3 separate regions of the Homo sapiens genome follow, and regions 2 and 3 are each linked to region 1. The links come from fine-mapping of genetic effects on gene expression. A gene starts in region 1. Each other region holds a variant in brackets. All regions are shown on one strand. Distances are between the middles of the regions.

Region 1 (5,468 bases):
ATTTCCTAGGCCTGTCCTCTCCTGGGCCTCCAGCTGCTTTCTGCAAGTCACCTGTTGACTCCTGTTACCCTACCCCACCCAACCAGGCTTTCCATCAGCGAAGGCTAGAAGTGCCAGGATGCCGCCACCAGGTGGACCGAATTCCTCCTCTGCTTGCCATTCCCCTGTTCTGGGATTAAAGTCAACCTCCTATCTCCTGGGGCCAGCCCTGCCTCCAGAAGTCCACCACTCCAGGAGTACTCGGCTTCTTAACTTTCTAAAGGAGCTAGGCCATTCATCTAGTTGCAGCCCAGCTTCATTTATTTGTCAAATCCTTAGATCACTGCAACCGAAAAATAGTAAGCCCACGCTTTTATCACTCCTGGGGTGAAAAGTTCTGCGGGTGTTTGCCACACATGAATAATGCACTCTACCGAGCAAAATTGGTTTGAGGCAAACAAACCGTTAAAGTGGAGGCAGCTGTTGATATACTAATTACCTCCTTCTAAACATAGACCCGGTTAGGTATTATGTACTTTGCATATGTCACAGTACAGACCCACATATATTTTATTAATGTGAATTTGCATCTCTGTAATACATGTACTTATTTAAATATTTTAACAGTTAAATTTCCCCTAAGGAAGTGCCGATAAACTGACTCCCAAAACACAATTATCCCCTATCCCTCAAATTCCAAGGGCTAATAGGTACTGTCTGCAACTGCATATTATAACTATAGACACAATAAGTGTATTTTATAGAACAGAAAACAAGGTATGCTTTTGACTACAGGGTTCACTTGCAGTCTACAAGTTACGAATGCACAAGACAGAGACCGGGATGTAAACGCTTTTCGTCTCAGAATGAGCAACAGAAATGTATTTGATTTTCAAAAGCCCTGAAATTCTGTCACCCCAGGAACAGAGCTGAGTTTGAAGACCCCCTCTCTCACAACCACCTAACTTCCTCAACACCGGAGACCAAGCACTGCTTGTATTTCCCTTTAACAGTGAGCCCTGAGCCTTAAGAGATAGTTTATGAATGGTATACAGCCCCCAGCGTCTGGCCCTCATGAACTTTACCCCAAGGCCAGGAATGAGGGATTAATCATAGCATCAGGATACGCGTGGTTCTATCTCTGGATGTGGTTATTCAATGGCCAAAATCTTGTCCAATTCTATCTCCATCAAACTTGCTCAGGAATACTCAAAGTCTATGACATTTGATTCCAGTTGCGGGTCAATAGCCAAGTAATGATTTAACACTATAAACTCTCAAAAAAAATTTCCCGTTTAGACAGGACTGTACTTAGGTGTGGAAGCACGCTCTCTGGAACTCAAGTTGCGACCACCTGAGCAGAGGAGGCGAAAGCGACAAAGTAGGTACCTGACAGTGCTGAGTCATTACAAGCTGTTTCCTCTGAAATGTTACGCACCCATGGGCCCTCTGAGCATTAACATCCCCTTTCTGGAGGCAAATAAAATACATATTCATTGTGGAAAATGGTGCAACCTTCTGTAGGCGACAGACCACGATGGGGAATTTAGCACTAAGAGTGGATAGCAGGAACTACACAAACTCGCAGCTGCTCTCTAGGTACCGTAACTTTATCCCAGACGCTCAAAGAGGGCTATAGGGATACCGGGTGGCAATATTCCCCCTGCAGCCCCGGCTCAGGCCAGGGCCACACTAGGGCGCATTTCACTCTAAGCTGTTATATCCCCCTGTAATTGGCGGATGTAGAAAGCGCCCGGAGAAAATGATGCATAATAGATTTGTTCTCGAGGAGGATGCAATGGAGAGTAGAGGACGCAGGATGCTAACTGGTTTTTCTTCCCATGTGCAGGTCACCTGAAAACCCCGACGCTTTTTCGTTCCTCTCCAAGGAGAACCCTGAACTCACCGTCTCGCTCCGCTCTTATGGGGGGAGAGGAATAGTTTCACGCCCACCTGCCCGCCGCCTCTCCTCCCCCGGCACCCCCTGCCCCAGCCGGACGCGCGCGAGCTGCTACCGGCATCAACGGTCCCGCCCGCTACCCGCTCGCTGGCAGCCCCGGCCGGCAGCTCCCCCGGCGGCCGCCTCTGCACCACTCGCCAACCTCCACGCCGGGCCGAGGTCATGCCCGCCTGCCCCCAGCGCCGGGCGGCCCCCTCGTCGGGCCAGGCGGCCGCTCGAGAGCCGGGCTGGGGAAGGGGCCCGCGGCGGAGTTGGCTCGGGGACTCACCAGGTAGGCGCCCACCGTGCCCTGCGCCAGCATCAGGGCGCACTCGGACACCAGGAAGATCTTGATGTTGGAAAAGCAGGACACCTTCTTTTTCTTTTTCTTGTTCCTCTGCGCCTCGTCCCCCTGCAGCTCGCCGCTCCGGCCGCCGCCCGACGAACCGCCCGGCTTCTTCCCCTGCATCCTTCCCCCGCCGCCGCCGCCGCCGCCGCCGCTGCCGCTTTCCCGCTCGCCCCGGGTGTCGGGGCCGCTGCCGGGCGGGGGTGCGCGCCTCGAGGCTGCGTGCTGTCCCCGCCCCGGGTTCGCGGCGGCCGCCCCCGTCCTGCCGGGGCTGGAGAGGTGGAAGGCACAGCTCCTCGCCGCCGCCGCCGCCGCCGCGATCGCCCCTTCCTCCTCCTCCTCCCCCGCCTCCGCCCTCCCCTGGCCTCCTCCTCCGGCTCCGGCTGTGCCAATCACAGGGGCTCGTCGCGCCGCCCGCCGCCGCCGCTGCCTCGCCTCCCGCGGCCGCCCGCCGCTGCCATCGCCCGGTTCCCCTTGCCCGCCGGCCGCGCCTGCTCTCACCCCCTCAGCCCCAGCCCCAAGGCCTGGGCCTGGGCCGCCGCTGCGCGCCCTCGCCGAGCCGCTCCTCGCTGCCGGTGCGCCCCCGGGGAGGCACGGGAGGCGGGCTTGGGATGCGGAGGGCGGCCCGGCGGCCGAGGCTGGGAGGGTCCGGCTGCCGGGAGAACTGGGGAGACCCGGAGTCCTTGCGGAGTAAGGGGGGTGCCCCTGAGGGCGGGAGGCGGCGCCCGGCCCCTAGGTGGCGCTGCGGGGCACGGGGCCCCGCGGCGGAGACTGGCGGCTCTGCGCCGGGCGCGGAGATGGGGTGCGGAGGCGCCCCCGCGGGGCTGGGACCCGGCGCTCGGGAACCCGGGTGCCCAGGCCTCAGAGGGCAGGCTGTTCCCAGGAAGGGAGAATACTGAGTACCCAGGAAGGGCTTGGCGCGCGCTCTTCTCCGCCCGGGGATTTCTGGGGACAGATGTTGTGCTCTGGGTCTTGGGGAGGTGCCAGAGGTCAGAGCTGCTTGAGGCTTCTGCCGCCTGCCGGTTTCTGCCCCAGCTGTCCCCGGCCACAGGGGGTGTTGAAAAGGCCCCAGACCGAAAGGACAGAAAGGGGAAGTTAGAGGAATACGTCGGGAGCCCCACGGACCGTTAGTGCCCCAGCCTCGGTGTCCAGGCGCTGCAAGATCGCCGCGGCCCCAGCAGAGGGCCTTCTCCGGCCCTTCATCCGCCCAGGGCCCCGCTGCTGGAGCGCTCAGCAAGCGGCCAGCCGCAGGCCTGCTGGGTCCCCACCCGTCCCCTGGCTCTGTGGCCCTGGCCACCATCCTCGGCCTTGACCTGAATGCCTGGCCCATGGCAGCCGCTCCTAATTACTCCCCACTCTCACCGTTACCAAGGAGTGTGGGCCACAGGGCACTACCAATAGGATCTGCTAGTTCTCAACTGCAGCGTTTGGAAGCTGAGAGAAAAGCTCAGAGGGCTGGACAGGTACCAGGAAACAGCACCTTCCACCTGGGCCATTGGGGGACTCAAGGAATCATTTAAAACGGTTTCCTTAATAATTGTGTCAAAGAAAATGACCCACTCTCCCAAGCGCCTGTGTCCAAATGCAGGCTCAACTTCAAAACTGAATAGCAATGAACCCGACCATATTTTTCCTTTCTCCCGAAGAACTTGAATGAGAATGGAGGGTGTAATGGTGGGGATGTTGTTTTGCCATGGCATTTAAATATAAACTGCTTCATCCTTCTGTGGCTCCAGACGTGATCTCACCCAGGCTTGGTGTCGCTTTGAGATGCCCTCACCTTGTCTAGGCCACCTCCTATCTGAATTGGCTCCCCCCACACTTGAAGTCTCTTCCCGTCTTCCCCACTTCCTGAATCAGTGGTCACACCATTCCCGGCCAGTCCTATAATGAGAATCCTTACTGCCCCCTTCTTTCTTCCCCACACCCTCCTATCACTCGGAGCCAACTTCTCTGCAGGATCTTTATGTCCCCCTCTTTCCCTCCCCATCACTTTGCTTCATGGGCTACCTCCCCACTTCCTCCTGAGAAGACCCTTGACAAGCTAGCTCTGTTCCCTGCCTCTGTGACGGTAAGCTGCAAAGCTGAGCTGAGACTTGTCTACGAATGGTGACCCCATTGCTAATGAAATGTGCGGAGTGCTTTATAGTCTTCAACTCTTATTTACATTCTTTGTAATAACAAGAGCTAATGTTTACTGTGTGCTTATTATGGCCAGACACCATTCTCAGTGCTTCACCCGCATTTACAACGTAATCCTCACAGCAATCCTCTAAACCAGATACTATTATTAGCCTTGTTTTACAGATGAGACAACTGAGGCCTAGAAAGGTTAACCTGACCAGTGTCACTTGTCTAGTAAGTGGCAGGGCAAGTCTTTGAAAACCAGGTTGTCTGCCATCATAGCCCAGGTTCTTTATAACTACATACATATTATCTCGTTTATCACGCAGTGTGGTTCATCTGATGGGGAGGCTGGGACTTATGTTGTTCCTCTTTTATAAAGCTGGAAAGGAACAAAACTTGCATCCATGTCCAGCCCTTTTTGTTCTTTTTTGTTTGTTTGTTTGTTTGAGATGGAGTTTCGCTCTTGTTGCCCAGGCTGGAGTGCAATGGTGCGATCTCGGCCCATGGCAACCTCCACCTCCCGGGTTTCAGTGATTCTCCTGCCTCAGCCTCTGGAGTAGCTGGAATTACAGACGTGCCACCACACCCGGCTAATTTTGTATTTTTAATAGAGACGGGGTTTCTTAATGTTGGTCAGGCTGGTCTCGAACTCTGATCTCAGGTGATCCACCTGCCTCAGCCTCCCAAAGTGCTGGGATTACAGGCATGAGCCACCACGCCCGGCCAGCCCTTTTTGTTCTATGCCACAATGCCTCATGTACAGACTGAGAAGGGCACAGCCTTCTTTCAGCTTAACCATTTATTTTAGATTAAAAAATTAGCTGTCTTTAGAGAAATCACACACTTTTGCTGTCAGATAAAGGATTTCGGATTAGGGTTGTGGATTCTTCCTATAATTAATGGTAAGCAGCCATGAAAGTAATCCTGGTGCCTGAAGCCTAAAGAATCATCAAAGTCAGCCTCAGGGAAATCAGGCTGCGGCCTCACAACAGTCAGAAAGAAGGAATTTAACAAGTTCAACTCCCTTCCTTCTTTGCTCATCCTTTATTTACTTGTAGATCAGGGCTCCAGGGATGA
Region 2 (5,468 bases), 210 kb before region 1:
CCTGTTTTGACAAGGCCTCCAGGAGGGGCCCGGGGCAACATGTAGTGACGTAAGGCAGTGGGAGCTCCAGGGAGGGCTGGGTGTGAGTTGGGGCGCTGTCTGTCAATGCCATCTGGATGGTGGCAGATGCGTGACTGCCACAGGGTTGCCAAAATCCAGATCTTGCCCTGTATCACCCAGAGCCTTGACATGACCATGTAGCTAAACCCTTGTGGCTCCCAAAGGGGAGGCCCTTGTGTAAGGATGTACATGTGCATCCACAAACAAACCCATAGGAGCGTCTAACAGGGTGATGGGTTGCCTAGGAGGACAACCCGGCAGGCTCCTGGTCCTTCTGGCCTGTTTTGCTAGCATGCTGTTCAACTCTCTGCTTTCCTGAGGGCCTGGAACCTCCTGTAGCTCCCCATCTCCACCACGGTGGCCAGTGGGGATGGACAGTGGGTGCACCTCCTCCACCTCTTAGCTTTCTTAGGATCTTCCCAACAGCCAACAGCCCTATTAGCTCTTTGGGTTTTAGAGATTTCATAGCTAATCCCAGTAAGAGGACACTTCTGGAGTGATTCAGTGAACAAACGCTTGGGAAGTCTCAGTCTCTCAGGACCTTCAGAGGGGCAGCTACTAAGGAACTAGGAGTTTGAATCAAATGCCAGTGGGGAGTGGAGAGAAGATCTCTTCTGCTGTGCATCTCTTCCTCTTTGATCCCTGGGATGGAACTCAGACAAGCCCTCCCTTTCATCCATGTCCACATTCATTTCTGTCCACTCTCAGTCTGATATTTGTGATCCTGAAATATTATTAGGGCTGAGCTGTGGGCATGAGCCAGTCAGCCTCTAAACACCCCTAGACTCATGGAAGGAGAGGGGAAACCCAGAAGAACAAGGATCATTTATTAGGCACCTATGTATACCAGACCCCAGTGCAAAGGTAGAAAAGAGGGAAAATGCTAATTCACAAACATTAATTTACAAACACTTACTCACCGAACACGTATAAGGCACGTCATTAATTACTGTGGATGTCAAAATATGAGACAGTGCCTGCAGGAGCTCAGATCCAAATATAGCCATGAACTGTGTAACAAATGTTTCAGTCAATGATGAACCTCGAATACAATGACAGTGGTCCCATAAGATAATAATGAAGCTGCAAAATCTCCATCACCCAATTATGTCTTGATGATCCTGATTCTGGGTAGGCCAAGGTTAATGTGTATGTTTTATCTTAGTTTTTAACAAAAATGTTTAAAAAGTGAACAAAAATAAAAATTTTATTAAAAAGTACCGGCCGGGCACAGTGGCTCATGCCTGTAATCCTAGCACTTTGGGAGGCTGAGGCGGGCAGATTGCCTGAGCTCAGGAGTTCAAAACCAGCCCGGACAACATGGTGAAACCCCGTCTCTACTAAAATACAAAAAATTAGCCAGGCATGGCACTGTGCGTCTGTAGTCCCAGTTACTTGGGAGGCTGAGGCAGGAGAACTGCCTGAACCCCGGAGGCGGAGGTTGCAGTGAGCCGAGCTTGCGCCACTGCACTCCAGCCTGGGTGACAGAGCGAGAGTCCGTCTCCAAAAAAAAAAAACTCGGCTCACTGCAACCTCTGCCTCCCAGGTTCAAGCGTGCCTCAGCCTCCCGAGTAGCTGGGATTACAGGCGTGCATCACAGCGCCCAGCTAATTTTTGTATTTTTAGTAGAGACAGGGTTTCGCGATGTTGGCCAGGCTGGTCTTGAACTCCTGACCTCAAATGATCTGCCTACCTTGGCCTCCCAAACTACTGGGATTACAGGCATGAACCACCGAGCCCAGCTGGCTAAGGTTAATTTATTTGTGAAGAAAATTTTTTTGAAATAAATGTAGTGTAGCCTATGGTACAGGAGTGTACAATACTGTCCTAGGCATTCACATTCACTCACCACTCACTCACTGACTCACCCAGAGCAACTTCCAGTCCTGCAAGCTCCATTCATGGTAAGTGCCCTCTATAGGTGTACCACTGTTTATCTTTTATGCTGTAGTTTTACTGTGCCTTTTCTATGTTTAGATACACAAATGCTTACCGTTGCGTTGCAACTGCCTACAGTATTCAGTACAGTCACATGCTGTACAGGTTTGTAGCCTAGGAACAACAGGCTACACCCTATAGCCTAGGTGTACGGTAGGATACACCATCTGAGTTTGTGTGAGTACACCCTGTGATGTCCCCGCAATGACAAAATTGCCTAACGACGCATTTCTCAGAAAGTGTCTTCATCATTAAGCCATGCATGACTGACTACAGTGATATGCACTTATCAGGCTGTGTTAGGGCTCTGGGCAGCAATGCTGGTCTGATGAGGTCACAGGGTCTTCTGTGCTAAAGGAGGCCTCAGTGTAGAGACCCCTGCATCGATACAGCCCTCTTCTCTCCACCAATGTGAATTTTGATATCTAAATCCAGGGAAGCCAGCCACTAGGCTTACTGTGGAATGAGCAGCCCTGGGCTCCTCGTGTGCCATCTGGTCGGGGGCACAGAGCTCACGGTGGGCACACTGCCAGCCGCTGCTCACAGGCGGGATAATGAGTGAAGTGACAA[G/C]CTTCCCTGAGGGCCAGGCATGTGTCCTGTGAAGCCCTGGGGAAAAGTGCTGGACAAGGGTGACGGAAGAAGCATGGGGAATGTGACACTCCTGAGGATGGACCCATGCTGCCAGAGAAAGTGGTGTGTGCCCCGGTTGCAAAGGGCTTTGGGAAGTTATGGAACCCAGCCCCCTGCCTGAGGGCAGAGAGAAAGCTAAACCAGCCCAGCCACAGGGCACCCGACAGCTTCTTGGAAACAGACAGGTAACAGTGTCCTTGCAGAAACCTGTTCTAGCACGCTGGCTTTGGCCTTTCTCTGTGACAGGAAACACCCCCCTAGGGAAGAGGTTGATCTACTTGGTAAGAGAGGGTGGAGATGGAAAGGGGAAAGCTCAGTTACCCCGAGACTTCCAACTGCTTCCCCAGCTGCTGATATACCATGACAGAGCAGTGACAGAGTGGGTTGGATAGTGCCTTCAAACAGATACTGCTCCAACCCTGACGCCAGCACTTGTGAGTGCGATGCATTTGGAAATAAGAGTCACTGAAGATGAAATGAAGGATCTCAGGATAGGCTCTAAATACAATGACTGATGTCCTTCTAAGAGAAAGGAGAGAAAGACACAGGCACAGAGGGGAAGGCCATTGCAGGCAGAGATTGAAGGGACGTGTCTCTAAGCCAAATAACACCTCGCATTGCCAGCAACCACCAGAAGGCAGGCGGGGCAGGCACAGATTCTTCCTTAGAGCCTCCAGAAGAAGTTAACCCTAAGACACCTTGATCGTGGAGTTCTGGCTTCTAGGACTGTGAAAGAATACATTTGGGTTGCTTTGAGCCACCCAGTTTATGGTACTTTGTTTCTGCAGCCCCAGGAAAGCATTATCCCTGATGGGGACTATGGTGATGTGGGTTTGGAATATTCATCTCCCAGAGAACACTAGGTGTCCCTACGTGAATGGGGTGATGGGCCACATTTGCCTGTTCTTCTCTTCCATGGGATAGCAGGTGGGGTCATCCAGTGGGGTGTAGCCATACCCTGCGGGACACCCAACATCCTATCTTCAAGGTCATCTGAAGGCCATTCCCTTAAAAGGAATGGGCTTAGGGGATGGGTGAGGGGTAAAACTCAATCATTTGGTTGATTTTAACTTACAGAATAAAAGGGGAAAAACTCAATAATGAACCCCATTTATTCTTTATGTATAGGGTTAGAACTCACAGACAGGCCTCTTTCCCTTAAATAGCAGAAAGGGCACTGAACTTAGACTCTCAGGACTTGACCTCAGTTTCTGGATCTGTGGAAACACCCTCCACCTTCTAGAGATGCTACACGGATCAGGCGTGCACAAACACACACACACACACTCACACACTCTCACGCTTATACAGGAACCTAGCGCAGCATTAGAAGATGGCTGCATTTAATCAATAGTGATGATGAGGCTCAAGTCCAAATTCAGCTGACCCCTTACCCGCTGTGTGACCACGGGCAAGTCACACCACTTCTCTGCTTCTTGTTTCCTCACCTGGGAATCTGGGGACAATAGGATGTATCATACTTACAATAAAAAGGAGAGATGGCAAATGCCATTAGCTTTGAACACTGCCCAGCAAAGAGTTGGGCTTTGTTTAATAATAAGCATTATTATTAACCATCATCAAAGCTGGGTCCACATTCAGGTTCTGTTAGTCCCCTGGTGTCGCCGAGGGCAAGGCCCCTCTCCCTTCTGCAACCAAATGTGCTCATTTGTCCACTGAGAAATGGGATGGCTCTGACAGCTCATGCAGCCTCTGATTATCAGTGATTCTTTTAGCTGGCTGGCACATGAGGTTCTAGGAGAACTCGCATCAAGAAGCAGCAGACATTCTGGTCAATGTCTGGAGGCTCAAGCGCTGGGTCTGGATGGGGCTGGATTCTCCATCCCCAAAGGTGGGGCCTGAGGAAAATCTATCTCTCTGGGACTGTGTCCTCACAGATGGACTGGTCTCCTGGTCTGCTTCTGCACTTCTGGGAAGATAGGCACATCAGTCCCTGGGACCCTCTCCATGTTGGGAGTGAAAATCCACTGTATTTTGTTTTTTTCCAAGGACTGTGTGTGATGCTTGGAGCCTGCCAATATTCTCAGTTCTAACCATTATCTTCAGGAAAAAGCAAGCACCTTGAGAGTAATAAGAAAACGAATACAGTAATCTCTCTTCTAAGCTGGCTTTTCCTGAGATCCCTTTGCTCAGTGAAATGACGGGCTGCCAGGCTGCAGGGCTGCCCTAGGGAAGGGGCATGGGACCCACTCTTCCCTCTGCAGCCTTGCCCGAGTTCCAGCCTTCTTACCGGCAGTCCAGGTGGCAATCAGGCCCCAGCACCTTCGGCTTGGAATGACAGAAAGCTAAGAATGGACTTATGTGCCTGCCAGGCTTCCTGAGACGGGCACAGCAGAGCAGCTGGCTGGGTGCTCTGATAGCCCAGAAGGGCAACTGCCAGGCAAGGGCTACCTTCTGGAAGGGCACAGACAGGGAGACCTTGAGATGTTTGGGAATGTATTTTCTGGCAGGAGGGAGAAACTGACATGATGTTTGTCTTTCCATTATGAAAGAATTAACTGGGTAACACAGTAAAGAAACCTAAAAGCCAAATCCTTCCACAGTAAAGAAAGCTAAAAGTGGGAAGGGGTTGAGCTTGTTCTCTCCAATCAACTCTGGATGCTGCAATTTATCCTGAGGATCCTGAAGTCCAGGTACTCCCATAAACCCTACCCATGCTGCTGCCAGCAAGGCTTTCTTAGGCAGGGGACAGTGATAAGAGGTGCCTTTTCTCAGCGGAAAAGTGAAGGTAGAGCGGTGAAGGTCTGAACAGACCTCAACTGGATATTAGAACAATTGCAAATTGTTTGAAAGGGAAATTATAGGGAACATGGCTTTGG
Region 3 (5,468 bases), 310 kb before region 1:
CTGTTGTCTATGGCTGATCTCACAGTACTACATCAGTTGAGAAGTTGCAACACAGACTGCAGGCCCACAAAGTCTAAAATGTTTACTACTTGGCCCATTAGAGAAAAAACTTGTGAATGTTTTGGTGGCGCTCTCTCTGGGGGCAATTCTGCCCTCATCTTCTCACCCTGCTTCCCCAAAAGTCACCCACTGCTCTTTAGTTCTTAGTTTCTAGGCCACCCACTCTCCAGAGCCTTCCTGATTCTTGCTGCCATGAGGCAGAACTCACCACCATCATGAATTGGCTCTCCTTATCCCCAGACAGACCCTAGCTCTTAATACTATTATCCCATTGGTTTTGTTTGTGTTCAGATCTGTCCAGCTCATTGAAATGGGGGTTCTTGGAGGGTAGGGACCAAAACTTTTCCACTTTTGCATCTGATCTAGGGCTTGGCATATAGCCAAAATTTTAAGTAAAGGAATGAAAAAATACATGTTTTGAATATATCAAACTCATGCAATGCACGCCCAAATAAACTCTGCAAAGAAAAATGCTAATGTGGATAGTCTCTGAGAAGTGTGAGTTGTCCCTGTCTCCATGGCAGTCACAGGTTTCTAAGGGACAGGGCCATCTTTGCTTTCCAAAATTTTCCATTTTAGGTTTGATAACCCATGTTGTCCCTGCCATGACGACCAAGCATTCTGGGTTGCTGAAGCTACTGATGAGGCAGGCGTGGGTGGCTGCATGCATTCAGGGTGGATTCCACATGCTGTTCTAGGCAACAGGCCCCATAAGAGGCATTTGAACAAAAATCTGCCTTGCATCTTCCACCAGTGAGAGAGTATTCCAATTTACTCTTGAGCAATGACAGTACACTAGGGGCGTGGGGTCCAAAGTCTGTCACTTAGGGTGGTTTACTGTAAGGGATTACGTTCTTGCGGCTGTTGTGAGAGTAGCAGTTTGGAATAAGTCGGGCGGAGCAGGTGTAATAAAAAAGGAAGGAAGGTTAGAAAATGGATAAATACTATATTTGGGTCTTGAACTAATTTTCCAGGCCAAATTTAATTTCACTAGCACCCTCTCTTGGAAAAGTTGGCACCTCTTAGATATTTGAAGTGGATTCTAACCTAAGGGGGAACGGTCCCTAAAAGGAAACATGGATCATGGTTGAGAGGAGGTCAATCAGAGGAGAATGGCGTGAGCCCAGTGGAGCCAGCAGGCCCCTGCCATGTGTCTGGTACTTTCCTCTGGCTTCTGGCCAGATATGTGGTTCTCCCAAGCCATCAAGATAGTCAGGTAAGAATAGCACCAGGCAGCGGGAAGTATTCTCCATCTGTTAGACTGAAAAAACTGCATGGTTTCTTCCCTCATCTAAACCAAATCAAATAAAATATTCAAGCAACAATAAAATATAGCGTAACTCCGTCCAACTGCAACAGAAGCTCATCCTGTTTTTCTGGTCTTGACTGTATGATCAGATGCATTGACCTCTATGCACTGACCTTCATAGCTTGCCACTGCTGAGTAGGGCCTTTGGAGTTCCTAGCAGGGCTTAGAGCAGACTGCACAGGTCTGGCAGGCATGGCTGGGTGGAGAAGAAACCAGACTTCCTAGGACCGGAAGCAGCAGGCGGCAAGAAAACCAGCCCAGCAGGCACACGGGGACCCAGAAACTACTTTTCCTTGGAGGTTTTTCTATTTTAGTACATGTATCTATCTCCATTTTAAATGTTCCTCAGTGAATGACCTCCTCTGGAAGGTGTGAAAGAATATCCATTAGCAACCACAGGAGAATCTTTTTCCTGGGAAAATTCCTCAAGAGTGGTGTGACTACCATCCCAGGGACCAGCTGGTTGCCCTTGTGTGGAACGTTTCTGCAGGCTTTTTGACTGTAAGGGCTGGGAAGCCCTGCCATAGTGTGAGTGAGGGGAAGCTGGAGGGCAATTACTGGACACAGGGCAGTGGAATCGGGGGACTGGAATGTACAGATGACACTCAACCAATCTTTAAAAGTCAGCACTAGAGCGAGTTATTCCATGATCAGATGGTGAGAAGGAAGTGATTTTTATGGAGGGGCACGCTCCCTCCTGCTAGGAAGACGTTAGCAACCCTGTCAAATGATTCCTTAGGAGCTCCTGGCTTTCCAGTTATTATTTTGCCTGTTAAGTGTTCCTAGCAAGCTCCTCGGGGGGACCGTGAGAGGAGGCTGCTTCCACTCCTTCGCTAGCTGTGAGGAAAGCCCGCATGCCATGCTGTGGCCTTCTGGAGCCCTGTCCCCCAGGGTGCCTCAGAGCCAGCGTTCCCTGAGAGCACACAGCCTCAGCTGAGAGAAGACAGCAAACCCTGTCCCCTAGAGAGGCATTTTTGCAAAATGTGCTTACTTCATAGGAGGGAATGATATTGGTAGAAAAACAAAACAAAACAAAACAAAAAACAAAACAAAACCCAAACCTTCTTTGTCTCTACGTAGGAGTTACAAAGATCTGTCAATTTCAGCAGAGAGAGACTTTTCATCCACCCTGGGCATGTTCAGCTGAGATGGTGTAGGAGTTTGTAGCAGAAGAGAGAGAACTCTAGCATTCACTTTCTAGGTTTATTCCATCCCGTACATTTTTGTATTCTGTAAATCCAATGATCTTACCAGGAAATCTTTTCATTCACTTGAAACCAAACAGATAATCGAGGGGCTGGATCTAGTGTTGTATGTACAATGCTTCTTTAGAGCACAAAAGGCAAATTAAAACTAGACTGAGTTTTCTGTTCGGTACTATATGAGAATAATTAAAATTTTAAAAGACGACACAACAGAATTCAGAGCCATCCTGCAACAGCGGTCTTTAAATTTATACCCAATTGCTGATAAAACTCAGCCCTGGAGTTGTCTTCCTGTTATTCTAACATCTTTTTCACATTCATCCTAAAATCTTAGGAAAAAAAATCCAAAATGCAAAGAGTTTAAAAAACTTTCTTTTTTTTTTCTCTCAAAGCAAATAGTTCCATAAAACACTAGGTCAAAGGGCCTCAGTGTGTGTGTACTGAGTTTGAAGGGCCAAGCAATAATCTATAAGAGTGACCTATTAGCAATATATTTGCAAAACTAAACCAAAATCTGTACAGGATATTATCAAAGCCTTAGGAACAACAGAACATACATATTTTATGAAGTGGTTGGAGAACCATCTCCCCTTTAGTAGTTAACGTACTGATGAGTGTCCCCATTTTCATAAGCAAGGACATACTAACACTAAGCAGTTGAAAGGCCTGTCTCAGAAGCATCCTGCCCCAGGTAGCTGATCACGGTGGCCCCATACCACGACACAGCTTTTCTTTTGGTTGGTCTTGCTGAGTGCCTTCTCTAGATTTGGGCTGTCATTCAAGCCTCTTCATTTACAATGTTCATTAAAAATTC[G/A]GTACCATACCTGTCCCACTCCCAACCATTTTTTACTTCCTGATTCTTTTGTTTGCCTTGTGGGTAAAATGCAAATGTGTCCAAGGTGAAAAAGCAAACCAATCAACCTTTGAGTTTTTTTTCCAGCGCCAGGAATGTGACATGAACAAAGGTCACTGAAGCAGCATGAGGAGTAAGTTAGCAGGGCCCTTTGTTGTGTGTGTATGAGTGTGTGCCTTTACCTAAGCTCTGTCCCCTTACAGAAATGGCCGTAGAAGGCCTAGTGTGCTGGTTGCGAGAGGTTTTCCAACGTGATTCTTACCCCAAATCATAACAGGTTCATTCTCTGAGGTTCACCCACCTTCAAAACACACAGACAAGGGCCTTAGTTCAAGACTAACACTGAAAATGTCACAGACATTTTCACGCATTGGACACACGACAGCTTCCAGGAGCTTGTGGGTCTATTCGTTATCAGAGATGCTACAGACTTCTTAACAGCTTGTGTTAGGGAACTGTTCTTCTTTCCTATCCCCGGAAGTGTTGCACCCATACACACAAACCCACATCTAAGAGTGTCTCCTCCACAGGCTGAAAAGAACGCCTCTTGGAATGTCAAGCATGAATATAAAAGGGTTTCCCGTGACAGTGATCACTGAATCATGGGGAAGGAAGCTAAAAGGCAAATTTGCAATTCATCACATTATCCCCTGTTGTCTCAAATGTGATTCTTTTAAAGGCAGGCTGCATATACACTCTCTTTTTGAAGCATTTTTTTTTCTTCTTGTAACACATTGTATATTCTTGTTTTTGTAGAATATTCGAATGAGGATAAAATGATGAAAATTACAATAGGTTAATTGCATCCCTTGTATCACATATTTTTGGTGCATTAAAAAAGGAGAAAAAAAGTAAAAGCAACCAGCATAATAAATCCGGCCTAGAGAACTGTGTTAGTGACTTGAAGGGTTAACACAGATTTTAGAAGTAGTTAAAAATAGTATTAGAGGATTATACATACAACAGTTTGAAATTCATATGGATTGTATTTTTTTCTTTTAAAAATGGCAAAATGTTTTTGGCAAATGTAAGCAAATGACTTGGACTGCGTTGGGTCTCACCAGCTCTGAGCCGGGTCAGTCATAGCCAGGCGAGGCCTACTGCTTCCTGAGGTCACTCTGTGGGGCTGGGGGAAGGTGGATGCCCGCCACTGGGAGGTGCTGGCCCCCCACCTGGCTCCCCCTCAGGCCCTCAGTCTTGAACATGGAAATGGAGCTGGTGAGAGGTGCCAATTACAAACTCCAGCACGGATCACCCATTAGCATCACTGAGAGAACTCTGGGGCCTTGAACCACATGCAGACTGGGTGAGTCGTCTACACAGTGACCCATATTGCGAAAGTCAGAGAGAGGAGTGGTGCTTCCACCCCTCCGACTTGTGCGCCCGCCCCCACCCCCACCTGGAGGAAGAGGGTGGCACGGGGTGTGTCACTAGTGCTTAATCTGGCAATGTTTTCAACTTGTGGGTTTTTTTTTTTTAATTTTTTTTATTTTAGGAAACTTCTTTTAAAAAATGTTTTCTGTTTTGTATGTGTATGTGTATCCAGAAATGTCCATCCTCCAAGCTGGCCACCACTGTTCCCTGAATTTGGCAGTGCCTGTTGCTTGCAGCTGTCAGCATCCTGAAAACCATGAGGTGCCTTCAAAGTAGACTCTGTGGCCCAGCCGCGCAAGTGGCCTCCAGGACCCTGCCGCACGATGTCATTCTCTCCTTATTCTGAATCCTGTCTGGCTCTGATGCTGAGAAAAAGGACAAAGTCGGTGTGTCTGTCTGCGTGTGTGTGCATCTGTGCCTGTGTGTGTGTACTGAGTTTTGGTTTTTTTTGGAACCTTTTTTTCTTTTTTTAAGAAAAAAATGACCCTTGGATTACTAATACAGAGTTCAGCCCTCCTTTAGTCACTATAAAACGGACTCCATGTTTTCACACCACTCATGGTCTTCCAGGTTATAGATAAACTTTGTCCTATGTGTCTGGTTTGCGGGCACAGGGTCCCTCCCCAGGTTGTCTAGGGTCAGAGTAGAGGCAAAGAACTCACTGGTG

Direction of the effects. Alleles are on the strand shown, and positions count from the first base shown. SD is a standard deviation of normalised expression in the study named. Not every link is listed here.
In carriers of allele C in region 2, the expression in cerebellum of the gene that starts at base 2,588 in region 1 tends to be lower than with G alone (small effect, 0.30 SD a copy in GTEx).

The links. PIP is the estimated chance that this variant, and not a neighbour inherited with it, causes the effect.
Region 2: its variant is the best candidate, but not a certain one, in a credible set for the expression of SLCO3A1 in cerebellum (GTEx, PIP 0.72).
Region 3: its variant is the best candidate, but not a certain one, in a credible set for the expression of SLCO3A1 in whole blood (TOPMed, PIP 0.83).

Annotation. Positions count from the first base shown.
Region 1 is chr15:91,850,828-91,856,295 of GRCh38, reverse strand. It overlaps SLCO3A1 (solute carrier organic anion transporter family member 3A1), which reads right to left and starts at 2,588. Exons shown (of 10, transcript NM_013272.4): 1 at 2,208-2,588. The coding sequence starts at 2,387. RefSeq lists silencers at 2,984-3,123, 2,992-3,166.
Region 2 is chr15:92,056,614-92,062,081 of GRCh38, reverse strand. All of the region lies in intron 2 of SLCO3A1 (solute carrier organic anion transporter family member 3A1), which reads right to left. Among named protein-coding and RNA genes, the nearest start is that of SLCO3A1, 210 kb to the right of the region's middle. The variant G/C (reference allele first, on the strand shown) is at 2,569.
Region 3 is chr15:92,162,994-92,168,461 of GRCh38, reverse strand. SLCO3A1 (solute carrier organic anion transporter family member 3A1) reads right to left here. Exons shown (of 10, transcript NM_013272.4): 10 at 2,559-5,468. The coding sequence ends at 5,327. Among named protein-coding and RNA genes, the nearest start is that of ST8SIA2, 230 kb to the left of the region's middle. RefSeq lists an enhancer at 3,066-3,823. The variant G/A (reference allele first, on the strand shown) is at 3,389.